Homo sapiens: one gene and its partner. The protein of the gene in region 1 interacts with the protein of each later gene in a pairwise test. Each region holds a gene or a part of one and is shown on either strand. Other genes may lie near its edges. The genes, in order: KSR2 and FKBP5.

The links.
Region 2: the proteins of KSR2 (region 1) and FKBP5 interact in binary tests that used the Homo sapiens proteins (3 or more experiments, as listed by UniProt).

The regions. Positions count from the first base shown.
Region 1 is NC_000012.12:117,755,663-117,759,692, reverse strand, and holds part of KSR2 (kinase suppressor of Ras 2), read left to right. Parts: intron 1-4,030. UniProt on the Homo sapiens protein: Location-regulated scaffold connecting MEK to RAF. Has very low protein kinase activity and can phosphorylate MAP2K1 at several Ser and Thr residues with very low efficiency (in vitro).
Region 2 is NC_000006.12:35,619,416-35,622,915, forward strand, and holds part of FKBP5 (peptidyl-prolyl cis-trans isomerase FKBP5), read right to left. Parts: intron 860-3,500; coding exon 717-859; intron 1-716. UniProt on the Homo sapiens protein: Immunophilin protein with PPIase and co-chaperone activities. Component of unligated steroid receptors heterocomplexes through interaction with heat-shock protein 90 (HSP90).

The DNA of each region.
Region 1 (4,030 bases):
TATAGAGGCAGAAAGTAGAACGGTGGATGCCAGGGCTGAGGGGAGGGAGAATGGGGAGTTGTTATTTATTGGATATAGACTTTGCATTTGGGATGATGAAAACATTCTGGAGATGGATGGTGGTGATGGTTGTACAACAATGCAAATGTAATTAGTACCATTGAACTGTACACTTCAAAATGGTTAAGATGGTAAATTTTATATTATGTATATTTTATCACCATTTTAAAAAGGCAGGATTCTGTAAGTGAAGGGTTGGCACACTTTTTCTGTACAGGGGCAGATAGTAAATACTTTAGGCTTTGCAGACCATTCAGTCTCTGTTGCAGTTACTCAACTCTATCATGTAGCACAAAACCAGCACAGACAATAGGTAAACAAATGGGCATGGCAGTGTTCCAATAAAACTTTATTTATAAAAACAGGTACCTGGCCCAATTTGGCCCATGAACTGTGATTTACCAAGCCCTGTCTGAAGCCGTAGTGTAGAGAGTGATCTCTTTTCTGAAGCATTGGGAATGCCCTACAGTGATTGACGTGGAACATGTGATTTTACAACAGTCATATTTAAGCTGCTATGTGAAACCTAGCTTGAAGACGTAGAATGCATGTTTGAGACCTCTGAGGGTGAAGCAGAGGATAGATGCTTTTCTGATTGGAGTTGTGTTTGATTTGCATGGTTTTGTGAGAGCCACAGAGATTGGGGCCTGCTGAAACCTCAAGGTGAAGATGTGGGGTAAAGTTCCAGGAAGGCTGGGAGTGCAGGTTGCTAAGGTGGAGGGTGGAAGAGGCATTTGGGGTTTGGTTGCTACGGTGGCCCCACACTTTGTGCTTCTCCCTGTCCCTTTCCCAGGGTGCACCACTTAGTAAGGCGAAACTTGATCAGAAAGCCGACTCTCCAGACACATCATCTTCTAATCTGCAAGATGGAGGCCAAGTGAGAGAGGCTGCCCTTTGGTTTTTAAATGCTGTCCTTTCCCTAGACCCCTGAAGGATTTATTCTGCCTGGATAGGGTTGAATGGCCCACTTCTTCAAGGCCTTCCAAATTGACTTGGCCACCTTTAGTGTTTTTTGGAATTTGTGTATCAGGACTCAGGTGGCGTTAAGCTTTGCCCTTCAGGTTTCTTCTGGCTGAGTTAGCAAGCTCATCACTTCCTCAAGGCTGGTAGTTCCCTGGCCCACCTTGGGGGATGCTGTGGTTCATGGCAAGGAAGCAGTAGAGGAGAGGAACAGAGTGGTCAGTTTGGTGATGTGGAAAATGCCGTGGGACCACTTAGCCTGGGACCATGCCTCCAGGTTCACAGGGATATCAGGGCAGCAGGCCTGGGGGTGTTAAAAAAACTAAAACATAAATAACAGCAACCTGAATAATGTTGGCAGCGGGGGTCATGGGTAGAGGTGAATTCTGATCAGGATTTATAAAGGAGGCGTTAGTTGAGGTGAGTCCCAATTATTAGACTGATAACAACAGTCATCATTTACCTGGGTCTAAACTAGTCCTGATCCTGCCAGGAAGTAGCCTTTTGACCTTGGATTTAACCTCTCTGAATCTTAGCTTTCTCAGCTGTGGACCCAAGAGGTTAGAATACATTTGTGTTTTTAAATTTGTGGTCATGACCCATTTGTGGTTGATAGCATTATTTTAATGGCTTGTGACCAGCATTAAAAAAATGAAATAGACTAGCCTAGACTAGAGTATATTGGAACACATTGCATCTGGTAAGCGTTTTAGTGTTGTTTTGTAAAACTTGTTTTCAGTAAGTACAGGCATACTTCAGAGATATTGTGAGTTTGGTTCCAGACCACCACGATAAAGATCCCAAAGTGAATGACACGAATTTTGGGTTTCCCAGTACATAGAATAGTTATGTTTTATACCATACTGTAGTCTATTAAGTGTATGATGGCATTATGTCTTAAAAAACAATGTACATACATTAATTTAGAAATACTTTAATACTAAAAAACACTAATGATCATCTGAGCCTTCAGTGAGCCATACTCTTTGCTGGTGGAAGGTCTTGCTTCAATGTTGATGGCTGCCGACTGATCAAGGTGATGGTAGCTGAAAGTTGGGCTGATTGTGACAATTTCTTAAAATACAACAATGCAGTTTTCTACATAGATAGACTCTTCCTTTCACAAAAAATTCTCTGTAGCATGTGATGCCGTTTGATAGCCTAGTAGAACTTCTTTCAAAATTAGAGTCGATCCTCTCAAACCCTGCCACTGCTTTGTCAACTAAGTTTATGCAATATTCTAAAATGTTTCTTGTCATTTCAACAATGTTCAAGGCATCTTTACCTGGAGTGGATTCCATCTCAAGAAACCACTTTCCTTGCTCATCCGTAAGAAGCAACTCCTTGTCTATTTAAGTTTTATCATGAGATTGCAACAATTCAGTTATATCTTCAGGCTCCACTTTTAATTCTAGTTCTCTTGCTGTTTCCACCGCATCTGCAGTTACTTCCTCCATTGAAATCTTGAATGCCTCAAAGTCATCCATGAGGGTTGGAATCAACTTCTTCCAAACTCCTGTTAATGTTGATATTTTGACCTCCTTCCATGGATCACGAATGTTCTTAATGGCATCCAAAATGGGGAATCCTTTCCAGAAGATTCTTTTTTTTTTTTTTTGAGATGGAGTCTCACTCTGTCACCCAGGCTAGAGTGCAATGGAGCAATCTCGGCTCACTGCAACCTCCACCTCCTGGGTTCTAGCAATTCTCCTGCCTCAGCCTCCTGAGTAGCTGGGATTACAGGTGCCCACCATCATGCCTGGCTAATTTTTGTATTTTTAGGAGAGATGGAGTTTCATCATGTTGGCCAAACTGGTCTTAAATTCCTGACCTCAGGTGATCCACCCACCTCAGCCTCCCAAAGTGTTGGGATTACAGGCGTGAGCCACTGCACCCGGCCTCCAGCAGGTTTTTATTTTACTTTTCCCAGATCCATCAGAGGAATCACTATCTATGGCAGCTATAGCCTTATAAAATGTATTTCTTAAATAATAAGACTTGAAAGATAAAATTACTCCTTAATCCATGGGCTGCAGAATGGATGTATTAGCAGGGATGAAAATCACATAATCTGTTTGTACATCTTCATCAGAGGTTTTGGTTGAGCACATGCATTGTCGATGAGCAATAATATTTTGAAAGGAATCTTGTTTTTTCTAAACAGTCGGTCTCAACAGTGGGCTTAAAATATTCAGCAAACCATGCTGTGAACAAAAGTGCTATCATCCAGGCTTTGCTGTTCCATTTATAAAGTACGGGCAGAGTAGATTTAGCGTAATTCGTAAGAGCCCTAGAATTTTTGGCATGATAAATGAGCATTGGCTTCAGCTTAAAAGTCACCAGCTGCGGTAGTCCCTAACAAGAGAGTCAGCCTGTTCTTTGAAGCTTTGAAGCCAGGCACTGACTTCGTCTCTCTAGCTCTGAGAGTCCTAGATGGCATCGTTGAATATAAGACTGTTTCATTTACATTGAAAATCTGTCATTTAGTGTAACCACTTTCATCAGTGATCATAGCTAGATCTAGGTAACTTGCTGCAGCTTCTCCATCAGCACTTCCTGCTTCACTGTACTTTTATGTTATGGAGACAACTTCTTTCCACAAACCTTATAAGCCAACCTCTACTGGTGTCCACATTTTCTTCTGCAGCTTCCTCACCTCTCTCAGCCTTCATAGAATTGAAGAGAGTTAGGGCCCTGCTCTGGATTAGGCTTTGACTTAAGGGAATGTTGTGTCTGGCTTGATCTTCCATCCAGACCACTAAAACTTTCTCCGTATCAGCAATAAGGCTGTTTTATTTTCCTATCATTCATGTGCTCACGGGAATAGCACTTTTAGTTTCCTTAAGAAAAAGAACTTTTCCTTTGCCTTCACAACTTGACCATTTGGCATAAGAAGCCTAGCTTTCAGTTCATTTTGGCTTTTGACGTATCTTCCTCACTAAGCGTAATCATTTTTAGCATATGATTTAAAGTGATAGATGTACAATTCTTCCTTTCACTGGAACGCTTA
Region 2 (3,500 bases), on another chromosome or scaffold:
AATGCTAATGTCTAGAACTATATCCTAAGGGACTGCAGTGCAAAGATAGGAAATACTAGGAAAACTACCCTGTGGGCAAAAAGCCAGAGCTACAAGGTGCTGGTGTAGAACTATTTTGTTTGAGGCCACAACTTTCCCATCCTGGGTTTATGGAGTTCCCTTCTCAAAATGTAAGAATAAATCTCATGGATGTGACCTACGACTGATTAAAGGTGTATTTTACCTAGCTGGGGTGGTTCTTAAAAATCAAGTTTTGCCAAATATATGTAATTCAACATAGGATGAATAATGTTTTATCACCACCAACGGCTTCTAGAGAAGTGAGATCTGTGACACATAAATTTTTATAATATGTAAATACCCCGCAACGTGACATAGGCATATTTCAACATTTATCGCCAACATTTCCATCCTGTACTCTGGTCAATTTTGAGTATGTCACACTCACACCATGGACCAGAATCTTTATTTCTAAGTGTAGCGTCTTTTGTTTATTTGGATATGACCTTTTTGTGCTAGAAACACGTTTCTAAGAAAGCACTGGCACGCGCACCCTTGGGTTTGTGGGAAACAATTCAAGAAGCCATGCTCCAAAATAAGTAAGTTGGATCTGATTCTCTATAGCAAGCTTAGCTCCTTTTCCCACTGCCTGTTGCTTCAAAGCCATTCCTATTGTAGAGCAGATGCTGACAAGGCAACATCACACACATACTTGCCTCAAAAAAGAGAGTTGCATTCGAGGGAATTTTAGGGAGACTGCCAGCCGAGCCATATGCATATTCTGGTTTGCACAGTAAATGGCATATCTCTCCTTTCTTCATGGTAGCCACCCCAATGTCCCATGCCTTGATGACTTGGCCTAAGGGAAAGGAAAAGGTAGTTGAAAGCTATAAGCCCTATTTAAAAAGATTTAACTTTCATAAAACCAAAGTTCTAATTTCCAGTTTTTCATACTACATACTCAGCTAGAAAGTATGGGCTACAAGATGACAGAGTGCTACATACAAATAAATAAATTATTTTTTTTGAAGGCTATCACAAAAGATTCCCTGTTGATCGGCCCAGCACTTTGGGAGGCTGAGGTGGGAGGACTGCTTGAGTCCAGGAATTTGACACCAGCCTGGGCAACACAGCAAGACCTCATCTCTAAAAAAAAAAAAAAAACACCCCAAAGAACCAAAGAACACAGCTGGGTATGGTGCACACCTGTAGTCCCAGCTACTCCGGAGGCTGTGGTGGGAGGACAGCTTAAGCCTGGGAGCCCAGGAGATTGAGGCTTCAGTGAGTCATGATTATGCCACTGCACTCTAGCCTGGGTGACAGAGTGAGACCCTGTCTCAAAAAGGATTCCCTGCTGAAAGGGATGAAAGTAATATAAATTCCTAAACTACTCAAAAATTAAGTCTTTGAAAACTGGTGGTAACATTATCCATGAAATATGGCTATGTTGCAATTGTTGCCTAATTTATCATTTCAACTATAATAAGCGCAAATTTTCTAGGCAGAGATAGAACAAAAATAGTATTGAAAAATAGAGTGTGTCCTAAGGAAGCTTATAATTTAGTTGGGTAGACAAAAAAAACAACAAAACAAGAAGTAACCAGAACAGGATAAATTGCATAAAAGGGTCCATGAAACACATTTCTTCTCAAAATTTAGAATCAGAAAAATGTTCCTTTAAACAAAAACATATGTGTCTTTTTGTCAAACCACAACTACAGAACTTAAAATATTTTATTTTTTGCCTACTTCCAGGAAACTAAGTTAAATTTACTGCTCAATTGTAGAACTATATTAGGCTATATAATTGTAATCTCAATGTTTATAGTTCCTATGATGTGCATCATTATCTTACTGTAAGCAGTATCAAGTCCTTTCGGAAACAATAGAAAATTTAGGCCATTTAAAAGGCTAAATTACATTTTGGTGGGGCATGGTGGCTCACGCCTGTAATCCCAGAACTTTGGGAGGCCAAGACAGGCGGATCACTTGAGGCCAGGAATTCAAGCCTGGCCAACATGGTGAAACCCCGTCTCTACTAAAAATACAAAAATTAGCCAGGCATGGTAGTGCGTGCCTGTAATCCCAGCTACTTAGGAGGCTGAGGCAGGAGAATTGCTTGAACCTGGGAGGCGGAGGTTGCAGTGAGTAGAGATCATGCCACTGCACTCCAGCCTGGGCGACACAGCAAGACTCTGTCTCCAAAAAAAAAAAAAAAAAGGCTAAATGACAAATGAGGTACTCTGTCAATCAGAAATATTAAGTATCTGGGGGCTGGGCACGTTGGCTCGCGCCTGTAATCCCAGCTGTAATCCCAGCACTTTGGGAGGCCAAGGCGGGCAGATCCCTTGAGCTTAGGAGTTTGAGACCAGCCCAGGCAACATGGTGAAACCCCATCTCCACAAAAAAATATATTTAAAAAATGAGCCAGGCGTGGTGGTGCTTGCCAGCTACTCAGCAGGCTGAGGAGAGAGGACTACTTGAGTCCAGGAGGTCAAGGCTGCAGTGAGCTGAGATCATGCCACTGCACTCCAGCCTGGGCAGCAGAGTGGAGACCCTGTCCTGTCTCAAAAAACAAAAACAAAAATGTAAGTATTCAAAAGTAGGATCAGATAAGAGATGAACCCCAGAGGAAGTGAATTTGAAGTGAGCTGGTGGTAGGATATTAGGACAAGGGAAACCCTACATAACAGTATGTAAGCAGGGATAGATAAACCATTTTTTATTCATGACTTTAGCTTAATCTTCATTAAATATTACAACTTTTCAAAATGTCAGCTACATTTATTTCAGTTAAAAATATATGTAAGTGGCCAGGAATAGTGGCTCATACCTCTCATCTCAGCATTTTGGAAGGCCAAAGCAGGAGCATCCACTTGAGCCCAAGAGTTTTAAGACCGGCCAGGGCAACATAGTGAAACTCCATCTCTACAAAAATTTAAAAAATTAGTGCGGCATGGTGGCATATGCTTGTAGCTCCAGCTACTTTGGAGGTTAAGACAGGAGAAGAGCTTGAGCCTAGGAGTAAGAGGCTACAGTGAGCAATGATTATGTCACTGCACTCCAGACTAGGTGACAGAGCGAGACCCTGTCTCTTAAAAAAAAAAAAAAATCAAGTAATACATGCCTATTATTAAAACACCCATGAAAGAGATGGAAAGTGAAAGCTGAAAGGCCATCCATCTGCTCCTTATAAGTAACTGTTACGTTTCTTTGGTATCCTACTGTGTGCTGTCACTTTTTAAAAAAATTTAAAATACAAATGACAGCAAACTAGACATTCAGTTCTAAACTACTTTTTCATTTATTATATATCTTCATCCTCTTTCTCCATCAGTAGAAAGGAGGATGTACATTTTAGAGGTCAAAAATGCAGCATACTCTAACTTCAGAATACCTGGATTTGAATACCAAGTTTGCCCTTTACTATCTGTGTAAACTTGTGCAAGTTATTTAATCTCTGTGCTTAGTCTCCTCACCTGCAAAATGTAAATAATAAC